7 linked regions of the Homo sapiens genome follow. The protein of the gene in region 5 purifies or fractionates together with the protein of the main gene of each other region. This does not show direct contact. Each region holds a gene or a part of one and is shown on either strand. Other genes may lie near its edges. The genes, in order: AGAP1, KCTD15, TRAPPC6B, CRTC1, KCTD3, FGD6 and DEPDC1B.

Evidence for each region.
Region 1: the proteins of KCTD3 (region 5) and AGAP1 purify together in Homo sapiens (affinity purification with mass spectrometry, with the first as the bait; one large-scale study listed by BioGRID). This does not show direct contact.
Region 2: the proteins of KCTD3 (region 5) and KCTD15 purify together in Homo sapiens (affinity purification with mass spectrometry; 2 studies listed by BioGRID and IntAct, with this or other methods). This does not show direct contact.
Region 3: the proteins of KCTD3 (region 5) and TRAPPC6B purify together in Homo sapiens (affinity purification with mass spectrometry; 2 studies listed by BioGRID and IntAct, with this or other methods). This does not show direct contact.
Region 4: the proteins of KCTD3 (region 5) and CRTC1 purify together in Homo sapiens (affinity purification with mass spectrometry, with the first as the bait; one large-scale study listed by BioGRID). This does not show direct contact.
Region 6: the proteins of KCTD3 (region 5) and FGD6 purify together in Homo sapiens (affinity purification with mass spectrometry, with the first as the bait; one large-scale study listed by BioGRID). This does not show direct contact.
Region 7: the proteins of KCTD3 (region 5) and DEPDC1B purify together in Homo sapiens (affinity purification with mass spectrometry, with the first as the bait; one large-scale study listed by BioGRID). This does not show direct contact.

What each region holds. Positions count from the first base shown.
Region 1 is NC_000002.12:236,036,043-236,039,542, forward strand, and holds part of AGAP1 (arf-GAP with GTPase, ANK repeat and PH domain-containing protein 1), read left to right. Parts: intron 1-518; coding exon 519-673; intron 674-3,500. UniProt on the Homo sapiens protein: GTPase-activating protein for ARF1 and, to a lesser extent, ARF5. Directly and specifically regulates the adapter protein 3 (AP-3)-dependent trafficking of proteins in the endosomal-lysosomal system.
Region 2 is NC_000019.10:33,810,370-33,813,869, forward strand, and holds part of KCTD15 (BTB/POZ domain-containing protein KCTD15), read left to right. Parts: intron 1-877; coding exon 878-1,183; intron 1,184-1,421; coding exon of another isoform or gene 1,422-1,433; exon of another isoform or gene 1,434-2,420; coding exon 2,421-2,579; coding exon of another isoform or gene 2,580-3,003; 3' UTR 3,004-3,500. UniProt on the Homo sapiens protein: During embryonic development, it is involved in neural crest formation. Inhibits AP2 transcriptional activity by interaction with its activation domain.
Region 3 is NC_000014.9:39,147,314-39,150,323, reverse strand, and holds the end of TRAPPC6B (trafficking protein particle complex subunit 6B), read left to right. Parts: 3' UTR 1-2,510; downstream 2,511-3,010. UniProt on the Homo sapiens protein: Component of a transport protein particle (TRAPP) complex that may function in specific stages of inter-organelle traffic.
Region 4 is NC_000019.10:18,780,257-18,782,833, forward strand, and holds the end of CRTC1 (CREB-regulated transcription coactivator 1), read left to right. Parts: 3' UTR 1-2,077; downstream 2,078-2,577. UniProt on the Homo sapiens protein: Transcriptional coactivator for CREB1 which activates transcription through both consensus and variant cAMP response element (CRE) sites.
Region 5 is NC_000001.11:215,570,304-215,573,803, forward strand, and holds part of KCTD3 (BTB/POZ domain-containing protein KCTD3), read left to right. Parts: intron 1-3,482; coding exon 3,483-3,500. UniProt on the Homo sapiens protein: Accessory subunit of potassium/sodium hyperpolarization-activated cyclic nucleotide-gated channel 3 (HCN3) up-regulating its cell-surface expression and current density without affecting its voltage dependence and kinetics.
Region 6 is NC_000012.12:95,207,468-95,210,967, reverse strand, and holds part of FGD6 (FYVE, RhoGEF and PH domain-containing protein 6), read left to right. Parts: coding exon 1-2,125; intron 2,126-3,500. UniProt on the Homo sapiens protein: May activate CDC42, a member of the Ras-like family of Rho- and Rac proteins, by exchanging bound GDP for free GTP. May play a role in regulating the actin cytoskeleton and cell shape.
Region 7 is NC_000005.10:60,602,667-60,606,166, reverse strand, and holds part of DEPDC1B (DEP domain-containing protein 1B), read left to right. Parts: intron 1-310; coding exon 311-477; intron 478-2,599; coding exon 2,600-2,776; intron 2,777-3,500.

The sequences.
Region 1 (3,500 bases), on a different chromosome or scaffold from region 5:
TCCCTGTCTGAAAACGTGGGAATTGATGCCTCTCCCACGGTAACAGGTCCTCTGCCATAAAAGAACAGAACCTTCCCGCGTTCCTCTATCCATGGAGTGTCTGTGGATCTACGCGAGTGCTTAGATAGAAATTAACCCTGCAGCCGGAGATTAGCGGCCCTAACTTAATTTTCGTCCCACAGATAAGGATGGTCAGCCATGAGTTACATGGTTATTCTCCTAAGTTGCTTTGTGTGTGCACCACACAGAGACGCTGACATCACTCGTTGATTTCATCTGGCCTTGTGCCCTGAGCCTTGATTGAAACCTGGCTAAGTCATGCTGGCCTTAGGAACCACATCTGGACTGTTGGGAGGTGCATGGATTCAAATCTCCGCCGCCGTGGTTGTCCAGTGCCGTGCGCCTCACCGGTCCATGCAGGGGCAGCTGAACCCAGAGGCGCTTCTGTGACAGAGGGCCCGCAGGGGGACTGCTGTCTCATAAAAGCTAAACTCTTCATCCCACACTCTGTGTTTCAGAACAAGAAGAAAATTTTGAGTTTATCATTGTGTCCCTCACTGGCCAAACATGGCACTTTGAAGCCACGACGTATGAGGAGCGGGACGCCTGGGTCCAAGCCATCGAGAGCCAGATCCTGGCCAGCCTGCAGTCGTGCGAGAGCAGCAAGAACAAGGTGAGGCCCCTGGCTGCCCAAAACCAAGGCTGGGGCTGCTCAGGGGGAGTGCGGGCCCCAAGTAATGCCCCAGGGAGGAGAAAATAGAGGACCAGTGTGAATGACAGGACCTAGCTATTCTTTATGAGCAGAAAGCTCAATAACTAAAACGATCAGAAGCACTTTGTGTCTATACCATCATACATGAGTATTCCAGCCTGACCGTGCTTCCCTGGCAGGAGAGCCAAGGTTAAATCTTCAGTCTGTCAGCCAATCCCAGAGGGAATCTTTTGGACTCTTGTGGCTTCTGGGTCCACATTTATTTTTGTTTTGGACAGAATACACTCAGAAAAAAAGAGAGACGGACTTAAAAGATGCACTGTTCAAGTAAATGCCCAGAATTCAAATCGACATCAAGTTGGAAAACCGTCTCTTGTTAGGGACATAAATGAAAAGTAGATGGGTCTGTATGAGCGTGCAGGGAGTTTGGGAAGATAAAGTTTCTATTATCTAAACTGATAAAGCCTGGTATGTGTTTTATTCAATAATTAGAGGTGGTGGTGCAGCTCTTTTAGAATTTGTCCAGCAGGTTTTCTGGTTCTCACCAGAAAACGCCACCCCCAAATGTTTCTATATTAAAAAAATAATGAGAGGCAATTTGTTTTTTGTAGTTACTTAGCTAGAAAAGGAAAAATATTTTAACCTGTATTTTTTTTTCCTTTGGAGAGAGTCTATCTCTGTCACCTAGGCTGGAGTACAGTGGCACAATCTTAGCTCACTGCAACCTCCAAGCTCAAGCAATCCTCCCACCTCAGCCTCCTGAGTTGCTGGGACTACAGGCCTGGCTTGCTTGCTTATTTATTTGTATATTTATTTATGTAATATATATTATTTGTGGAGGTGGGGTTTCATCACGTTGCCCAGGCTGGTCTCAAACTCTTGGGCTCAAGCGATCCACCTGCCTCAGACACCCAGAGTCCTGGGATTACAGGCATGAGCTACCACGCCTGGCTTAACCTGTGTTCTCTAGGCTACTGCCCAGTGATGTTCCTTCTACAAAAGTCCTTTTTCCCATCAAGGATTGCTTCAGTTTCATTATTTTAATGTTTGTTTGTCTTTAACCTCTTTGCTGGGACGTCTTAGACTTTTGGAGAGCATTTTGATATTTCAGACTATGATCAACTAGAAACTAAGAGAAAGGATGTTACCCACCGACCTGCAGTTTCATTTGTAACCATTTAAAGAAATTTCTGCCTATGATTTATGTGCAGCTTTGTCACTAAAAAGAGAGTCTGTCTTTCAGAAAGATGAAGTGTCTTATTTTATTACCCTCTTTAACCAGGGTAAACCAGACCACAGTCATTATTATTATAATGTAATTTGCTTCCCTTTTTAAAAGATGTTTTATACTCAAGGTGGGGAGAACCACTGCCTTTCATTCCATACACCCTGGCTTTACTGGGTCACGTCCACATGCATCCATGATGTGCCTCCTGAAACGAGCACAGGGTGCTTTGGGGCCACCTCAATGGGAAGCAACAGCACACAGCATCCTCCAAGCGTGGGCAGCTCATTCTGAGAAGGAAGGCAGGGAGGCAGGCTGTGTTACCGAACAGAGAGGCACAGGTTCCTGCCTTCATGGAGAAATCACAGTCTTTCACGGCAGACTCTGAGCCCCTGCCACCTCGACCTAATTCAGGAAGATCTGGGATGGTGGCAGCCTTTCCCATTCCACACCTTGCCAGGCTCCTCCTGACTCGTGTCTCAGCTCATGCACACACCAGCCTTAGAATGCTGCCCTCGGCCCTCACTAGGCGCCTGTTCTCCAGGGAATTGCTCCCTTGGGAGGAGGACGCGTTGAGCAACCAAAGGTGGCCGACTCAGAGCTGGTCATCGTGGGCATTGGTTGAACAGGTGTGAGGGCATAAAACATGGAAATACTGTCCACAAGGAGTAGCGGGAGGCAAAAATACAGGCCCAGTTGACCACCAGCTTTATAGTATTTTACCTGCCAGTGGATAATTGAGAGCTGATACAGGTATAGGCATAGCTAGACAGACAGACAAACCAACCAACCACAGAAATGATACAGGTACACAGAGAGACAGAGGCACATCCCTTTGTATGTGTGTGTGTGTGTGTGTGTGTGTGTGTGATCACACACTTGCATTCCAGATGCCAGTGTAAACTGTTTAAACATATTTTGAATACTTGGGTATCTAACCAAAGGGAATTAAAATTCAATAACGCATGATGCTAATTAGACAGTAGTGATTAATACATTATAATTTATTATGTAGCAAGTAATATATTATTTCACATCAATTTGATGAGATGTTTCAATTTATGAAGAATTCTTACGCAAAAATCAAGCTTATTGTAACTGTCCTCTGAAATTGATCAATTTTTGCTTTAACCATAATATTAAATGCATACTTAATAAATAAGCCTCAAAAACACTACATATCAGCCAGACACGATGGTTCACGCCTGTACTCCTAGTGCTTTGGGAGGCTAAGGTGGGAGGATCACTTGAGGCAAGGAGTTCGAGACCAGCCTGGCCAACATAGGGAGACCATTGTCTCTACAAAAAAATTTTTAAATAGCCAGGTGCATGGTTCACACCTGTAGTTCCAGCTACTCAGGAGGCTGAGGTGGGAGGACCACTTGAGCCCAGGAGATGGAGGCTGCAGTGAGCTATGATTGCACTACTCCAGCCTGGGCAACAGAGCAAGACCCTCTCTCTAGGTGGGGAAAAAGGTACATATCCAGTACATATCCTTTCACTTAGAACTTCTACTTCCAGGAATCTATTCTTAGTAAATAATCATGAGTGTGTACCAAGACT
Region 2 (3,500 bases), on a different chromosome or scaffold from region 5:
CTGAGCTGGTTGTTTATGTCCATTTTATACATAAGGGAACTGAGGCCGGGCGCAGTGGCTCACGCCTTGGGAGGCCGAGGCAGGTGGATCACATGAGGGCAGGAGTTCAAGACCAGCCTGGCCAACATGGGAAAACCCCATCTCTACTAAAAACATAAAAGTTAGCCGGGTGTGGTGGCAGGCACCTGTAGTCCCAGCTACTCGGGAGGCTGAGGCACGAGAATTGTGGAGTTTGCTGTGAGCCAAAATCGAGCCACTGCACTCCAGCCTGGGTGACAGAGAGAGTCTGTCTCAAAAAACAAAAACAAAAAAAAAAAACAAAAAAAAACGAAAAAAAAACCAAGAGGCTCAGTTAGTGAGGTATAGAGGTTTAGAGGTCTCAGGGCAGGTTGATGATGAAGCTGAAAATCTGACCCAGGCAGGCTTGGCTGGAGAAGAACTTTTTTTGCTTCCGGGTAGGCTGTGAGCTCCTAGGCCCGGCTGCCCTGTGCCCAGCATGATCTCTTCTCTCGGTGGGATTCTAAGGCAGCAGCAGGTCCCCAGGCATAGGCACAGCCTCGTCCTTTAGTGGAGCTTCCAGGTCTTTCCATGGGGAGGCTTCACTGCCCAGTGCCTGGGGCCAGATGGAAGGGCTCAGGGGGGCTGGCACAGGTGCACATCAGCGGCTGCCCTTGGGACAAGGCTAGGTTCTTTATACTTGCAAACCACTCAGTTGCCCCATCTGTACAATGGGTGCAACCGGCCCAGTCCACACAATACCCTGCGAGTCGCAGTTCCTGCAGAATTGGTTGGAACCGGCAGGCCGCCTCCCCTCTCCCCCTTCCCCCACCACCCCTACTCCGACACCCACATCAACACCCTGTGCGCCTGTCCCCAGGACTTCAGTCTGCTGTACGAGGAGGCGCGCTACTATCAGCTCCAGCCCATGGTGCGCGAGCTGGAGCGCTGGCAGCAGGAGCAGGAGCAGCGGCGCCGCAGCCGGGCCTGTGACTGCCTGGTGGTGCGCGTCACGCCCGACTTGGGCGAGCGGATCGCACTCAGCGGCGAGAAGGCCCTCATCGAGGAGGTCTTCCCCGAGACCGGAGACGTCATGTGCAACTCCGTCAACGCCGGCTGGAACCAGGACCCCACGCACGTCATCCGCTTCCCGCTCAATGGCTACTGCCGGCTCAACTCGGTACAGGTGAGGGCTGCACGCTGCCCCCTCCCCGCCGCACCCCCGGCGTCCGCGGAGCCCTCCAGGGGCAGAGTGAGCTGGAGGGAGGCGCGATCCCTGAAACGGTGAAGCCCCCCGTGCCATCCTACAAAAAAGGCAACAATGTGTCGATGCATAATTTATGTCCCTCTCATAATTAAATGATGGCGCCTGGGGGATGGACTTAAAAAAATCGATCTGTACTTTTTTTTTTTTTTTCCAAAAGGATGTTCTATAAAAATGGCCCAGAGTATTTTCAACAAAGCGTGCTTCATTTGACACCCAGAGTCTGACTTTGGATTCGAACTAAACCCAGGCAACAGGCGAGGCAGGACAGAGGCTGAGTGGAAAGGTGGTCTGGAGCCCCTTCCCTCTCCCTGCTGACCTGGGAGTCGCAGGCACCCACCAGCTGCCAAGAGAATCCCTGGACCGGCTCTTCCTGGATGGGTCCAAGAATTGGACAGCTCAGATGGAGTGAGGGCCTATTTTCCAACAGCTCTTCGCAGACCCAAGAGCTTGGCACATTTCCGGGTTAGGGTGGAATGGGCTTTGCAGGGAAGAGGGCCCCCTGTGCACGCATTCCACAGCCTGTCGGTCAGAACTTGCTAGTTGCAGGAGACGGGTGTTACACGCAGTCATCAGACCTCACCCTCACAGAGGCACAAACCCACATAGTTGTGGACGCCTGCAGAGACTCAAATATTGAGAGGACTTCTCCTTTTTCTCTCCCTCCAGAGCTCCCACGAGCTGATGCACCCCCAGGCTTCAAACCACCTGGAATGCACAGCTCAGGGAAGCTGGTGGATGCCTAGAGGCTGAAGGACAGGGAACTCTCCATTATTGGGGCAGGACTCAGGGAGGACACTTGGGGCCATGTGTCTGGAGAGAGGGCATAGGTTACACCCTACAGAATAAAGAAGGGACCCAAAGCCTCTTTTTGCCTCCCGGAATCAAGGCCCTGAGGGCAGCAGGATGGTGGCCTGGGTGGGGTCGTCCAACTAGGTTTGCTAACCTGAGGGGTCACTGGGCCTGGCCACTTCTGTCCCTCTGGTGGTGGAACCCAGCACGTGGTTCTGTAGGGACCTTTGTCAGTGAGCAAGACTGAGATCGTCACAGGAGAAGGTGCCCTTGCTGGCTGCCCCAGCAGGCACCCACCTCCCTGCCAGGCCAAGCCAGGTGTCCTCTTGCAGCTTGGCCTTGATGACCTCTGTTTCTTCCTGGGCAGGTCCTGGAGCGGCTGTTCCAGAGGGGTTTCAGCGTGGCTGCGTCCTGTGGGGGCGGTGTGGACTCCTCCCAGTTCAGCGAGTATGTGCTTTGCCGGGAGGAGCGGCGGCCGCAGCCCACCCCCACTGCTGTTCGAATCAAGCAGGAACCCCTGGACTAGGCCCTGCTTCAGTGCCCACCTGGGCCCCCCCAGGGACCTGGAAACAGTGCTGGGGAGTTCTGCCTGTGTATACTTGGCCGTGGGCATGAGACCGAGGGTGAGGCTGGAGGGTCCAAAGCTGGCCCAGCGAGCACCAGGGTCCCAGGTGTCATGGCAACAGAACGTGGGATGCTGGAGGCATGCCTGCAGAAGGACTGTTGATGCGACCCAAAGATACAGCGGTGGGATCTCTGCTGCCAGCTCTCCCAGCCCCTCAGCTTCGCAGCCTGGCGCAGCATCCTCTGAGGCCCCGGGGCCTGTTGGGGCGGGGTTGGAAGAGCCGTCTGCAGCTACTTCAGAGGAGCTGTTTATCCCTCTCCACGCGGGGCAGACTCTGGCGGGTCTCCTAGCGTCCGAGAGATGGCTTATTTTCTACAGTATTTAAAATGGATGCAGCCCTAACTGCAAAAGTCAGAGAGGCTGACAAGGACCAATGCTTCTTTATCTGGTGCTCAGTTCTCAGTCAGACGTGCAGCATGGCTGCAGGGTGGACCAGCTGCCTGGCATTCAGGCCCAGATGCCTGCAGGGCTGGGGCTCTCGGGACAGATGCAGGGATGTGTGCTGCAGGGCTGCTGGGAGGAGAGTGGTGGGGGCCTGAGGGCTGAGTGATTCTGTAACCACCTGAGACCTTCACGTTTGCTGCCGTTGGGGGCTCAGGCTGCACTCCCCGGGTCACCTGACCTGCTGCCCAGGGGCTTCCAGTCCTGTCTGTGTGGACTGGCACCTGGGCTGCTGGAGAAGTCTCCTCCCGTTCGGACCAGCCTCAGGGCTGCACGTTACCTCAGGAATGGGCCCCACCATGAAGGGGCCCATCTGTCAGCAGCGTCTTCTAGGTCCCCAGCTCAGGGAGCCATCCCCAGCTCCAGTTTTCTCATGCGAAT
Region 3 (3,010 bases), on a different chromosome or scaffold from region 5:
AGTGTAAAGAGATAAATTATTCATGTAAAAGTATTTCAAGTAGTGATGATTTAATTACATTGTTCGATGTTTGTACAGGAGTAAGCATGTATTTTTATCAATTTAACACAGATCAAAGGAGATGAAGGGACATTCTGCCATGACATACACTTAACCAAAACTATTCAAAATGAAAACCGGATTTCAAATAACCAGACACCAAGATGCAGGGCCCTTATTTTAAACCTTTTTATTTGGTTAGAGTGATATGTATTTAGCCATAGATGGAGAAACAAAGCTCAGGGTTTGTTGAATTAGCATGAGAGAAAATTATGTACCAACAGAATTATTTGTGAGAAGAATGAACAAATTTTGATAAAGTATGAATTTGTTTTATTTTAAAAAGCAAACATACTAAATTTTTTTTATTTTATTGCTTATAATTTATTAAGAATGTTTACACCTGTATAAGGATTTCATATATACATTGTATGTGTGTATATATAAATACATATATGACTGCCTAAATTGTTTATAAATTTAATTTTTCTTTAATAGGTTTCATTCCTTCAGAGCTCCATTAATGTAATCAAAATGAAATATAGATTAGTTTAAATGTGAATTCAGTGACTCTAGGGCCAAAGAATATTAGGTATGTTTGGAAAGAATTTTTGTATTTATTCCTGTTACAGTTTTGACTTTCAACTTCTCTCCCCGTGCATGGAAGTCCTGGTAAAGGATCTAACATCTTTATTCCCTTCTTTCCTCTTCCAGCTGAGCAGAGTTGGATAATTGAATTAGTCATTCTGACATTCTTTGGACCATATCATCTTAGTGGTTTGGGGTCAGTGCTCATCTGATATATCTTTCTTACCACCTCTTCTACTTACTTTCTCTTACTTAAATTATCTGGCATAAGCAGTTATCTCCAGCTTTTGTTAGAATCTTGCATGTTGATTACTAAAACTATACTTTGTTTCCCATTTATTTATTACCCTTTTGCATGTATTTGTGTGACAGGGAACTCTGCAGCAGGGGGTGACTGACACACCAAACAAGATGTTTCACTGGGTACTCTGCCATAGAAATGGCAGATTAAGAAGATTGACTATACCAAACATTATATTAAAAACACAAAATAAAAACTATAAAAATGTACTTTAGGACATTAAAGAAAACTCAAGTTAGAAGCATACCATTTTCCTTTCATGGAAGGGTACAGTATTACAAAGATAATTTGTTTAACTTGATTTATTAAATTCTAGTTATGTGCCCTATAATGATGTTTCAGTCAGTGACAGACCTCATATATGGCAGTGGTTCCATAAGATTACAATACTGTATTTTTACTGTACCTTCTTTATGTTTAGATATGCAAGTACTTACCATTGTGTTACAGTGTCCTACAGTATTCACTACAATAATATGCTGTACAGGTTTGTAGCCTAGGAGCAATAGGCCATAGCTTAGGTGTATAGTAGATCATACCATCTAGGTTTGTGTAAGTACACTCTGTGATTGTACAATTTTAAAATCTCCTAATGATGATGCATTTCTCAGAATGTATCCCCTTTGCTAAGCAATGCATGACTGCAATCCTAATTCTCACATGTTTTGGGGAAAAAATTTTAATTTTGAAAAAATTTAGGAAAGTTCCTACCAAATATACATGTATAAAGTTTATTAAAAGTCATAATGACCCAGGAATAGCTAATGACACAGAAGTAGATCAAAATAGAACACAATAGAGAACTTCAAAATAAAACAGGTGTGAGAATTGTGTGTGTGAAAAAGCTGGGTTCAAATAAGTTGGTTTGTTAGACATTCATATGCCTACCCATCAGCCATTTCGTTCTCCCTTCCTTGCTGACAAAGCCCCATTTTTTTTTTCTTTTTTTTTGGCCTAAAACTCTGTATGGCTGCCTTGTGCTATAGAATAGGGTGCTTCCCTAGCCTAGAGAGGGTGAGTGTTGATTAGATTCTGTGCCAATCATGGTAATTGGCTTACTTGATCATTTGATGGAATCTAGGCTAACGAGACAAAGGAAGTCTGAAGGCTTTGAATAAGAAATTTTCTGTTGCTCTTAACAATTGATACAAGTTAGGGATTTGCCAGCATCCCTCTTCTGCTTCTCAGTGAAGATATGTGATATGGATGTTTGAAGCTAATCTGCAACAGCCTTCTGATGGCCATGAAAGGACAAGTATGGAGATGAAAGCTATCACACTGAGAATAGTGGGATGTAGATAGAAAGCACCTGAATTGTGCTTCTGAATTAACCAATCCAGGAACTGCTTTACCTTTGGACTTTTTGTTATGTGAGATATTCTTTATATTGTTCCATTTGCTTTGGGTATATGTATATTGTTACTTGTAGCCAAAAAGAAACCTCTCTTAGTAGAAACAAAGGGAGAGTTAGGTTATTCAAAAATTAGTATGGGACAATTGAATATGCCTTTTTCTGCGGGAGTAGGTGGGGAGAAACTTAAAGGTTCACTTGTAAAACAATAAAGTACTAAAGAAAATGTGATAATACTTTCGTGATTTTGTGGTGGAGAAGGCCTTTCCAACACACAAATGTAGGAAATCATAAAGGAAAACTATAAAACAAAGAAATGTAGTAAAATCTCTTCAACAAATAGTGTTGGGAAAACTGGACATCCACATACAAAAGAATGAAATTGGATTGTTGCCTTAATGCCATACATAGAAATCAACTTAAGGCCGGGTGTGGTGGCTCAAGCCTGTAATCCCAGCACTTTGGGAGGCCGAGGTGGGGCAGATCATGAGGTCAGGAGTTCAAGACCAGCCTGGCCAAACAGTGAAACCCTGTCTCTACTGAAAAAAATACAAAAATTAGCTGGGTGTGGTGGTGGGCGCCTGTAGTCCCAGCTACTTGGGAGGCTGAGGCAGGAGAATTGCTTGAACCCGGGAGTCGGAGGTTGCAGTGAGCCAAGATGGAGCCACTGCGCTCCAGCCTGGGCGACACAGTGAGACTCTGTCTCCAAAAAAAAAAAGAAATCAACTTAA
Region 4 (2,577 bases), on a different chromosome or scaffold from region 5:
AGACCCTCTGCTGGGTACATCGGTCCCCTACGGCGAAGTTCAGCCAGGGCTCTCCCTCCTGAGAGCATGGCGTCCCCACCTTCCTGTTTCGCCGACGTCACTACCCAGGGTGGCAAGTCTTGCAGGCAGAGGGTGTAGCCCAAGTTCAGCCTCTCTCTGTGTCCTCCAGAGAAGAGGGTTCTTTGCCCTCATCAGGGCCCTGCTTGTGGGTTTTCGGCTCTGGGGAGGAGAGTGTTGGCATCAGTGTGTTTGGCCTGATTTCTTCAGGGGGCCAAGCTCCCGGGAGGACCCCTAGCCAGGAGGGCCCCCCATGTCCATCCATCCCTCCTGCTGGGGCTTGGATGTCAGGCTTGGGGGCTGTGAGCTGGGACCTCGCCTGAGCCCGGTCAGGTGGGACAGGAGCCTGCCAGAAGCCCATGGGGGGCCAGGCCGGGTGGCTTCTATTTTATTTTTTTAGAGATGGGGTCTTGCTGTGTTGCCCAGGCTGGTCTCGGACTCCTGGGCTCAAGCAGTCCTCCCTCCTCGGCCTCCCAAAGTTCTGGGGCTACAGGTGTGAGCCACTTCTGCCCAGCATCCCAGGCCTGAACAGCCTTGGCAGGACCCGTCCCTAGAGGGGGCTCTGGTGCCTCCCTTAGGTGGGCCTTGAGCTGGTTTTTAACCAAACATCCTTCCAAACTCGGGCTGCGACCTGCTTCCTGAGTTTTCTGTATTTCCAAGGAGCCCTCCGACCAGGGAGAGGCTGGTGGAGTAAGGTCCAGCGGTATTCGGGGGTCCTCTGTCACCTCGCCCTGAAAACAGCAGCTCCCATCACCTTCACTGGGTCCCGATGGAGCCGTCTCAGAGGCCGAGGGGCCCTCTGTGTGGGGGTGGGACGCAGGGGCTCTCAGAGCAAGGGCCACAAAGCCGATGGCACAGATGTGCCCCTGGGCCTGGCCCGTCACCCACATGTGGTGCCCTGGGCCAGGGCGTGCGGGCGCCAGAGCCTTCCCTACACAGCCTAAGAGCAGGGGCAAGACTCGGCCCCTCACTCACCCTGGGAGGCCTGCCTGGGCTACATGGACACCTGGGTCTCTTTCTACCCCCATTCACCATGGACCAGGGGCCTCCATTTCCTGGGGGCTCTTGCGGCATGTGATTTGGGGGTCCCTGGGACATTCTCCCGTCAGCTCCACCTGAGCCAAGTGTCCTGTTCCCTGCGGCCCTTGGCCTTCCAGGGTCCTGGCCAGGCAGGGGTCAGGCACCCCATACTCTTCCGTGTGGCACAGGTGTCCACCCACCCCCACTGGCCACAGACACCATTCTCCCCCTGGGAGCAGGAGGTGGAGTAAGTTGTACCCCCAGGCCTGGGTGCTGGGGAGTTCCTGAGGGCATGGGTGGGGCAGGAGTGAGTGCCTCGTGATCCCAGCCTCAGTTTCTCTCTTGTCACTTTCTCAAACCTGCAGGTCTCAGGGCCCCGGGCTCCTCCTGGGCAGGATGGGGGGCAGGGGCTGGGCCTTGGGGTGGTGCTGGCTCTGATGATTCCAGAGCCTGTATCCACCTTCTGGGCTCCTGGCCAGCACCCCACCCCCAGGAGCCAGGGACAGGTGGCATGTGTTGGGGTCGGGGGATGGCCCCCATCTCGAAGTGTTCTGGAATTTGGGGGCAACCCTTGCCCAGCCCAGCCATCAAGAACTTCTGATCTCCTGCCCACCAGGAGGGGACTTAGCCATGGACTTGGCCAGTAGGCCTGGGGAGGGAGGGCTTTGGCAGCCAAAGTCCACTGGCCCTGCCGTGCCCCTGAGTAGGAAACTGTCCCCTAGGGGCTGGGTGGCCCCACTGATATATGCAAACCCGCCGGTCCGAGCCCTGTTCCTGCCTGTGCTCCTCTGTGCCCAGGCTGGCTCTCCCCCAACCCTAGCATGTATACTCTGCCACGGACGTCCCGTGGGCCATGATTGTGGGCGGCCGCAGCGGGCGGGGGCAGGCGGCTCAGGGCACACTCGGCCGTCCCTGCCCCATCCTCTGGCAGGGCTGCTTTTGTCTTTGTACCTTTGCATCCTTTGTAATGAAACGTAATAAAAATCCAACGTTTTCGTCACTGGCTCTTCCTCTTTTTTCTGAGCCCCTCCCTCCTCCCTCAGGGGTGACACATGGGCGTGGCAGGTGCACTGGCAGGTGCCTCAACCCTTCCGAACACACACACACACACACACACACACCCCAGACCAGGCAAGGGAAGGGGTCCCCAAAGCTGGGACAACTGGGAACCTGCCCCCCAGAATCCTGGGGCGGACACTGTATCGGGGTCTCAGCTCTTCCATGGCTGGCATCCAGGCCTGTGACCATGAGGTGGTGGGTCGTGGAGGTGGACCCAGGGGCCTCCCCAAATCCCAAATCACAGTTGGACAGTCCCTGGCAGGCCACTGGCACTCAGCAGCAGCTGCAGCACTGAGGCCTTGGTTTGGGGTTCCCTGGCCCGACCCTCCCTCAGAGGCCCGTCCCTACTGTCTCCATGCAGCAAAAACCACAGCCGCCACTCCCTGCACACACACTTTATTTTGTCCTCTCTGAGCCCTTCTCACTTCCCCCTCAGGACGG
Region 5 (3,500 bases):
TTTATGGTTTAATACTTTGTGGGTGATTCAGAAAGTAGAGTAGATGAAGTTTCATTTAGAATTGTTAGTATTCGTTATTTACAAAAAGTAATGAAGTGAATTCACTATGACTGAATTTATGATTAATTCTGTTATGGGCAAGTGTGATTTTGGGCCTCATGCAAGAGGGCTGGGACTAGCCATTGAGGACTCCTGGACAAAGAGCTTTTGAGTCAGGTATATGTTTCCAATTCCCAGGCTTTATCTCTAACTAGCCTAGCAACCTTGGACAAATATTTTGATACTTAGTCTATTAAAATGTAAAGTGACAGACAGTAGTACCAATCTTATCAGATTGTTATAGGAATTTGAAGTAATAAATGTGAAATGCAAGGGTTAGTGGCATTATCAGTACTTACAGTGCAGAATAAATAACTAGTTAGATTGCTACCAAGTTAATTTAGTAGGAGGCAAGTTGCATGAAGTATAACTGTGGGTATGCAAATTTCTTTAGTCCTTTGCTGAAACCAGATTGTACATGACTCTGTTCTTGGGACACTATGGGTATGGGATAAAAAACAAATCAAAACAGAAAAGGCTTTCAAATGATTATGCTCATCATGTGTAATTTTAAGTGTGTTAGTTTTCATGAAGTTATATTCGAGACTGGTTTTGGGGCCAGAAGTTTAAAAAAAAATTGGTGGGGATGAGGGTCTAATTCCTTTGCCCAGAAATTCCAGGTTACTAACCTTTCCCCAAAATGCTGATTAAAATTGAAACTGATAATATGATTTTAAGCAGACCTTTGTGATTTTCTAAGTAGCACATAATTTTAATTATTTGGAATACAATTGGTGAATAAGTGGTGAATATAAAAGATTGCAAGTTATAAGCTGTCCTCATTTGGAATGAATTTGATGGCCTCCAAAACAGTGAATCTGCAATGTATGAATCCTTGGATCCTTCAATTTACCATTGAGTGGATTTGCTTTGATTTTGGACCAAGTCAGTTTTCTGTGACTGGGGTAATCTGTGTATTTTTTATTTTTCTTAAGAGTCTATTAAGAAACGCATTTAGGAGCATTTGCAGTGTTTTCTTAAAGTGACTCATTTGTTAATCAGATAAATGGGCGTAGGAACTGCTTATAAACACCTAGACTGTCCATAACCTGTGAAATTAGTTAGTAGTCAACTTCTATGTGTTCCCTAAAGTACCCCTTACTGTAGTTTACATTTAAATGTCTTTAATAAATGAATTGTTTTACTGTCTTTCCTTCAGTTAGCCAATGAAAGAATACTTTTCCTTACAAATTGTAAAGTTGTATGTGGGAAGAAGTGGAGATAAACTTTTTTTTTTTTTTTTTCCGAGACGGAGTCTCGCTTTGTCGCCCATGCTGGAGTGCAGTGGCGCGATCTCAGCTCACTGCCAGCTCCACCTCCTGAGTTCACGCCATTGTCCTGCCTCAGCCTCCTGAGTAAGCTGGGACTACAGGTGCCCGCCACCACGCCTGGCTAATTTTTCGTAGTTTTAGTAGAGACGGGGTTTCACCGTGTTAGCCAGGATGGTCTCCATCTGCTGACCTCGTGATCTGCCCGCCTCGGCCTCCCAAAGTGCTGGGATTACAGGCGTGAGCCACCGCGCCTAGCCGAGATAAACTTTTAATTGTGATTGGAAAGCATGTTTTGATAATGATAGAAAATTTATTTTGGAGACTAAGGCACTTTTTATGGAACAGTGCATACACGGCTTCTGCTGTTACTGACACTGAGACTGATACTGCTAAATGATTTAAGTGGGCAGTTTAGTGACATCTGTGTGTCAACACCAGTGTATTCTGAAAGTGCTCTGTTGTAACCATAAAATGCCTGCAGATCGTACAGAAGAATCAAGTCTCCGTTTTGTACAGAACATTTAACTGAGTTTTAGAGTGTGATTCTGTTTATCACACATAAGTTTCAATAAACATTTACTGGGTGTGTGCTAGGTGCTAAGAACAATGCTTTTAGGTGGTCCTCTCTGGCTTTAAGAAAAAACAACATCTACTTTTTTAATACAAAATCCATTTCTGAAACTGAGTTTGAAAAGTGAATTTACAGATAATCCATTTATCAAGATATGTAAAATATTATGAGCCATTGTTGCCTCAGGTGCCTGGATGGACTTGCAAAGTTGAGAGATCTGTGAGACTTCTGACACTACTCTGTATAAGCCTTGGTAGTCACAGTCACCCTGGCCTGCAATCCAGTGCTATTTAATAGCCCACTTAGAAGATGGGAATGGGAAGTAGGATGTATTTTGAGGTTTGTTATGCTGCAGTGAGCATAATAAAAAAAAGTAAGCAACTTCCACGTTTTTGATAATTCCAGGCTGCTAATTTAGGTAATGGCAGACAATAGATGGATGATACAGTGTATACATGCACAGCCTGGGAAACATCCCTTAGCCATTTTGGCTGGGGTTTGGCCTGTGTTTCCTGGTGATAGTGCATGGTAACTAGTGCCACTATTCAGTCACCTTGTTTAGTTTAAGTATGAAAGGTAAAAATAAATTTAGGGATTTCATATAATGCCAGAAAATAAATGTGGAGTGAAAGTAGAGGTTTGCTAGGCTGGGTGAGATAACATTGTAGTTCAAGGTGATATCTTAAAATGAAAATACTCAGAGAAGGGCTGGACTGAACAAGTACTATATTGCTTTGTTTGCCATATCAGTTTACATAAATTATTGGTTTGTTGTCCCAGTCTATTATACTGTACTTTGGTAAAGATCCTCCCTTGGTAATATACAAGCTTGATCAAATGACAACCTCAGAACAGTGATGTATTTGGCTGAATGATTTTTGAATGAATGAAGTCAGCAGTTGCAGATAGCCCAAGACTGCCTATAAAGAAGGTGTTAAATGAGTAATTTACAGTGAAATTACTATGAGCTTAAAAAGAGATAATACAGGATTGGATATTTAGAAAAACTATTACAGGGAAGGTAAAACCTGAGTGGTATCAAGAAAGATGGACGGATCTTGAATTATTGGACATGAAGAGAGTGATCTAGCTGAATAAAGATACCAAAATGGTAGTAAGCATGAATTTTTTGGGGATATGAAGAAGTTTTGTCCTATTAGAGGGGAAAACCAGCATTTGTACTGGAGAGATGAGATGGAACCTGAAGGTAATTTTGAATGTTATACTGAGAAGTTGAGACTTGGTGTGATGGGCTAATTGTTGATTCTTCAGCAGAGATTAGCTTATTGGAAAGTAGTGTTTTAAGATGCATTATATGGCGGATAACAAGTTGTTTATTGTTATTGAGAGCTGCTTGTATAATCTTAACTCTGAATTGAAAGTAGCAACGTTTAAAAATATTAACTGTAATAAATATATTGGTACAGCTATAACTATAAAACATCTTGTAAATCATTAGCCAGTGTATTAAAACAAGTTAACTAATACTGAAATTTCAAATCATGTTCTCACTTATAATACCAGATGATTTTTAATTGCAGATTTAGTACCTCAAGACA
Region 6 (3,500 bases), on a different chromosome or scaffold from region 5:
TTTCACCAATGTGTTCCTGCAGTTCTGAGTGTATCCATAAGCTGGGCCATAGAGAGAATTTGTGTGTAAAGCAGCTTGTTTTAGAGCCCCTGGAAATGAATGAAAATTTAGAAAACAGTAAAATTGATGAGACTTTGACTATAAAAACTAGGAGTAAATGTGATTTGTATGGTGAAAAAGCCAAGAACCAGGGTGGGGTTGTTTTAAAGGCAAGCGTTTTAGAAGAGGAGCTCAAAGATGCCTTAATACACCAAATGCCACCTTTTATTTCTGCACAGAAGCACAGGCCCACAGACAGCCCAGAAATGAATGGTGGCTGTAATTCAAATGGACAATTCAGAATTGAATTTGCGGATTTGTCACCTTCCCCATCCAGCTTTGAAAAAGTTCCTGATCATCACAGTTGCCACTTACAGCTTCCTAGTGATGAATGTGAACATTTTGAAACTTGCCAGGATGACAGTGAAAAAAGCAATAATTGCTTTCAGTCATCTGAACTAGAGGCTCTGGAAAATGGGAAAAGGAGTACTTTAATATCTTCAGATGGAGTTAGTAAGAAATCAGAAGTCAAAGACCTTGGTCCCTTAGAAATTCATTTAGTACCATATACCCCAAAATTTCCAACTCCCAAGCCCAGAAAGACACGAACTGCTCGTCTGTTACGCCAAAAGTGTGTAGATACTCCTAGTGAAAGCACTGAAGAACCGGGGAATTCAGACAGTAGCTCTTCCTGTCTTACTGAAAATAGTTTGAAAATCAATAAAATCAGTGTTCTGCATCAGAATGTTTTGTGTAAGCAGGAACAGGTGGATAAAATGAAGCTAGGAAATAAAAGTGAATTGAATATGGAATCCAACAGTGATGCACAGGACTTAGTCAATTCACAGAAAGCCATGTGTAATGAAACAACTTCCTTTGAAAAAATGGCACCTTCTTTTGATAAAGACTCTAATTTGAGTTCTGACAGCACAACTGTAGATGGTTCTAGTATGTCGCTTGCTGTGGACGAAGGGACCGGTTTTATAAGATGTACTGTATCTATGAGCCTGCCTAAGCAGCTCAAATTAACTTGCAATGAACATTTGCAATCTGGGAGAAACCTGGGAGTTTCTGCCCCTCAAATGCAAAAGGAATCTGTTATAAAAGAGGAAAATTCTCTACGAATTGTCCCCAAAAAACCTCAAAGACATAGCTTGCCTGCTACAGGAGTGCTTAAAAAGGCTGCCTCCGAGGAGCTTTTGGAAAAAAGTTCTTATCCTTCAAGTGAAGAAAAAAGTTCAGAGAAGAGTCTAGAAAGAAATCACCTTCAGCATTTGTGTGCCCAAAACCGTGGTGTGTCATCCTCCTTTGATATGCCTAAACGGGCTTCAGAAAAGCCAGTGTGGAAGTTACCTCATCCTATTTTACCCTTTTCAGGGAACCCAGAATTCTTAAAGTCTGTCACCGTATCGTCAAACAGTGAGCCTTCAACAGCCCTAACCAAGCCCAGAGCAAAATCGTTATCTGCTATGGATGTGGAAAAGTGCACTAAGCCTTGCAAAGACTCTACAAAGAAAAACTCTTTTAAAAAGTTGCTCAGCATGAAACTGTCCATCTGTTTCATGAAGAGTGACTTTCAAAAATTTTGGTCCAAGAGTAGCCAACTCGGAGACACCACCACAGGCCACCTCTCCAGTGGGGAGCAGAAGGGGATTGAAAGTGATTGGCAAGGCTTGTTGGTAGGAGAGGAGAAGAGAAGTAAACCCATCAAGGCATATTCCACAGAAAACTATAGCCTGGAATCTCAAAAGAAGAGGAAGAAGTCTCGGGGCCAGACCAGTGCAGCTAATGGTCTGAGAGCTGAGTCTTTGGATGACCAAATGCTCTCCCGGGAGTCATCATCTCAGGCACCTTACAAGTCTGTTACAAGCCTCTGTGCACCGGAGTATGAAAATATACGCCATTATGAGGAAATACCAGAGTACGAGAACTTGCCATTTATTATGGCTATACGGAAAACTCAAGAGTTGGAATGGCAGAATTCCAGCAGCATGGAGGACGCTGATGCAAATGTGTATGAGGTAGAAGAGCCGTATGAAGCTCCAGATGGCCAGCTGCAGCTTGGACCCAGACATCAGCATTCCAGGTAACAGGTGCCAGACAGACACTTTTGCATGCATCATTGCAATTAACCTTCAACAGCCTGGTGAGTTAGGAATGCAGGGGGAAAAAAAACACGTGGTTGAAGGAATAGTTTAGAAAATGTGTAATTATTCTCAAGTGCAGCCTCCTTTTAGCATACAGTTGGAATGGGTATTTGCAATACAAGCTTGAAGTAGTTAATTTATTTTAGTAACCGATTCAAAGAATTTGAACCAGTGGCAATGTAGGTGCTGCTGCAAGGAAGGCGTGGAACAGAGAGGTCCTGGGCCTCCAGACACCAGCTCAGAAGTCATATCAGGAAACCTGGGGCAGGAAATTGGCCAATTCAATGACATTTATTTGCTAGGTATAAGAAGTCTGAAGTTACTGAAATATGTAGGCATTTACGTGTGGTGCGCTTATCAGGTGGAACCTCCACATTTTTAGAAGTTCACCACTCTTTGAAGATTGGTCATTTTACCTGTTGATGGCTAATTGCTGACCTCAAGTGGATATAGGAAAAATGCAGGAAACACGTAACTACTCTTTATTTCTCACTTTTAAAATAATTTAATTAAAAAAAAATTTTTTTTTTGAGATGAGGTCTTACTCTGTCACCCAGGCTGGAGTGCAGTGGTATGATCATGGCTTACTGCAGCCTCGACTCCCCAGGCTCAAGGAGTCCTCCCATCTCAGCCTCCTTGAGTAGCTGGGACTATAGGTGCATGCCACCATGCCTAGATAATTTTTGTATTTTTTGTAGAGACAGGGTTTTGCCATCATGCCCAGGCTGGTCTTGAACTCCTGGGCTCAAGCACTGCTCCTGCCTTTGCCTCCCAAAGGGTTGGGATTACAGGCATGAGTCACTACACTGGGCCTATTTCTCACTTTTGTGTGTGCACTTCCTACCTGTGGAATACCTACTCCATCTCTCTTATTAAAATCGTGCCCATCCTCAATAATCCACCCCCTCAGTCTTTGGCTTCATTAAGCTTCTACAATTACCTAGTCAGAAGTGTTTACTTCCTATTCTGACCACCCAGTTATGCTGTGATATCCTTTCATCTCAGGCTGTCTTAATGTATAACTATTTATTGGCATGTCTGATGTTCTGTATTTGGTTTTAAGCTCCATGAAGAGTTCTAGTCATCTCTTTGCCCTGGATAAAGCCAAGCAAGAGGCCTAGTAGAATCAGTAGATGTTGATTGGGTCTAAGAGAGAATGAATGAAAATAGGCCAAGAGAGCAACCACTGCAGCGGCTTCCTTCTCTCCATAGTCGCATAGGTAGCTTTTCCATTGTATTTCTAATGTTTGTTTGTGTTTAACAAAAAAGCACATGGACCCTTTTGGAAATCTTTAGATTGTTCTTAGTCCACTA
Region 7 (3,500 bases), on a different chromosome or scaffold from region 5:
TGATAGTGTTAGCCTGGCTGCTCCTGGTTCGGGAAAGAGTGCTATGAAAATTGAGATATATCTGTCTAGTGTATGGGAGGAGAAAATGGCTGTATTTGGTTCTATATATTTGTCATGCCTGGTTGATGGTTTGTATTTTCTATAGTGATTTGTGAGTGACAATGGATCTATATTCAATTGACCCAGTATAGTTGAATATGTGAAAATATTTTATGTAATTTTACTAATATATATTTTGTTAAAATACAACCATATAGAATCTACTAGGCTATAGGTGTTGAAAGATAACATTTTTTTTTTTCTAAATCAGGTTTGTTACAGAAGGAGAAAGTGGCAGTTGAAGCATTTCAGATTTGCTGCCTTCTCCTACCTCCTGAAAATAGGAGAAAGTTACAGCTATTGATGAGGATGATGGCAAGGATTTGCTTAAACAAAGAGATGCCACCCCTGTGTGATGGCTTTGGTACCCGAACACTGGTAGGTTGATTTTTAACATCAGGTATGACTTTTTGGAATGAAAGTCGACTGAGTAAGGTGTATTAGTTTGGGTGATCAGAGGGAAGTACAAAGCAGACTTGCTTAAAAGAGCCACAGTCAGTGTCCACCCAGACTTGTGTCGTGCTTTTGTTCTAAGTGTCTTAAAGAACATAATGAGAAATGGAGACTTGAGTAGGGGCAGACTCTGTAGAGAGATCTGCTACATCCTGTTCTCCCACTTAAAATTATTTTAAATTTATTCTTAATTGACAACTAATAATTGCATATGTGATGTTTTAATTCATGTATACATTATAGAGTCAATCAAGCTAATTAACAGATTCATTACCATACCAACTTATCATTTTTTTGTAATGAGATCATTAAAAATCTATTCTTTTCTCAATTTTGAAATATACAATATATTATTATAATTGTCGTCACCGTGCTGTGCACTAGAGCATTAAGACTTGATCCTCCTGTCTCACTGGATCTTTGTACCCTTTGACCAACATCTATTTCCATGTCCCTGTATCCCCCAGCCTGTGGTACCTACCATCTAATCTCTGCTTCTATTGGCATATGTTTTTAAAGAGAGTTTATTTTAGAATTTACTTACTAGCAAAATCTCTTGATTTTCCTCAAAAAATGTCTTTGAGCAAAACTGGTGCTTCAGTGGAATGTATGTGCTTTCCATATCCTGTTAAAACACCGTGTACTCCCTGGGGATTCACTGGCCCAGTTTTAGAAGTAATAGAGTGAGATCAGAGGAGCACTTAGTGCCCAGTAGGATTCTTGATCTCTATATTTTTTTGGAGTGAGTGGATGGTTAGAGAGGCTAATAGACCTTTTTGAAAAGCTGAAGAAAACTTTATATCTATTCTGCATATAAAATACACATGCAAAACTTTGCATGCAGTTTCAAGGCGATCACAGAGTCCCTGGGGTCCATGGTCTCCAGGCAAAAAATTCTCTGCCTGTGTGTCTCTCTGTACATGTAAATGTAAGTGAAGATCATTTGCAGTGTGTTAATGAAGTGTTACTAAGCAGAATTACATGATTTTTTGCTTAAAGATTTTGAAGGAAGATTGTCAGCGATAAAAGTAGTAGGAAAAAACAAAACAAAACAAAAGCCAGTCCAAAGAACAGTATTAAGAATGGAGTAGTTAGGCTGGGCGTGGTGGCTCACTCCTGTAATCCCAGCACTTTGGGAGGCCGAGGCAGGTGGATCACCTGAGGTCAGGAGTTCTAGACCAGCCTGACCAACATGGTGAAACCCCGTCTCTATTAAAATTACAAAAATTAGCTGGGCATGGTGGCAGGCGCCTGTAATCCCAGCTACTCGGGAGGCTGGGGCAGGAGAATTGCTTGAACCTGGGAGGCGGAGGTTACAGTGAGCCAAGATCACACCATTGCACTCCAGCATAGGTTACAGAGCGAGACTCCGTAAAAAAAAAAAAAAAAAAAAAAAGAATAGTTAATTTCAATTCTATGGAAATTATTACATTGATGCTATAATATATTTTGCATTTCTGCTTGCCTCAAAGAGAGTCTCATCACTTAATGTACTTCTTGAAAAGTCCCATGGCTTTGTTCAAAGATGATTGTCAAATATACATCGAAAATCCTAGAGAAAATAAGCTAACTAGGAAAAGATGTAATGGTTGAGGCATGTGGACTGTGTTAGCGGTTTAAAACAAATCAATAATGAAATTAGGATAAATAATAATTGACTAAATGGCTATAAAGTGCTTTGAACTTAGTAGTGCTACATGATTCAAGTCATGGTGATAATGATTTTCAAAATTTGTTTTCATATATTTATATGTGTGTATGTGTGTGTATATATATATATATATATATGTATATTTAAAATCGTGTAAAAGGAGGTTTAAAAATTGCTCAGATAAGCATCTCTCTGCAGTCTCTTAACAGGAAGATGCACATTTTGTTTGTTCTGGTTGTTGAGACCGTCAACCCATCTGAGATGGCTGGGTACTCTTGGTAGAATATGCACCCTGTGCCTTAGACCATTTCTCATATTTGCCTTTTGCAAATTAGATTGCACTCAGTTCAGAAAAATACTCATCTGCGTTTACCCCCCACCCCGCTCTTTTTTTAGATGGTTCAGACATTTTCCCGTTGCATCTTGTGTTCCAAGGATGAAGTGGACTTGGATGAGTTATTAGCTGCTAGATTGGTAACGTTTCTGATGGACAATTACCAGGAAATTCTGAAAGTCCCTTTGGCCTTGCAGACCTCTATAGAGGAGCGTGTGGCTCATCTACGAAGAGTCCAGGTAAAGGAGAGGATATTATCAGTTCTATGAAATTGGCAATATAAAGTCACGTAAGCTTGCTAGGCTTCTTGGGGCATTTTATTATGAGGATTAAGTGAATTAATGTTTATAAAGTACTTACAACAGGTCTTGGCACATAGTAATCCCCTGCATGTGTTTGTATTATCATTGAAAAGTTTACAGAATGCACATTTGGTTTTGTGTATCAATCCATGTGGCATATTTTTTATTGCTAATTCCTTGAATGAGTTTGTTTAGAATCTACATACACCTACTGATGGAAATGATTTTATGTGCAGTAAGTGTCTTGATTCATAATTGCCCTGTGACCTAGTTTAATATTCCCACTTTTTGCATGAAAAAGCTAAGGCACAAAGAACTTAAATAACTTCGCTTAAGGCCACAGAGCCAGAATTCTGACTGTTGCAGTCAGCCTCTGTAATCAGTGCTCTAAACTATCATTCCATATTGCCTGTCTAAAAATCATAGTACAGTAGAAGAACACTGGCATGAGAGCCATGAATCCCTGGCCAAATTCCTAGCTGTATCCTTTCTGTCGTGTGACTCTGGGCAAGTCCCTTAACCGCTTTGGATTTTACTTTCTTTCCTCAGGCGTTAAAATGGGCTATTCTTTCTTTATAAAGTTGTGAAGATTAGAACACTGTACTTTACAATTCCTAGGATGAATTTCTGACATATGTCAGGTATTCTTTGAAAGGTAGCT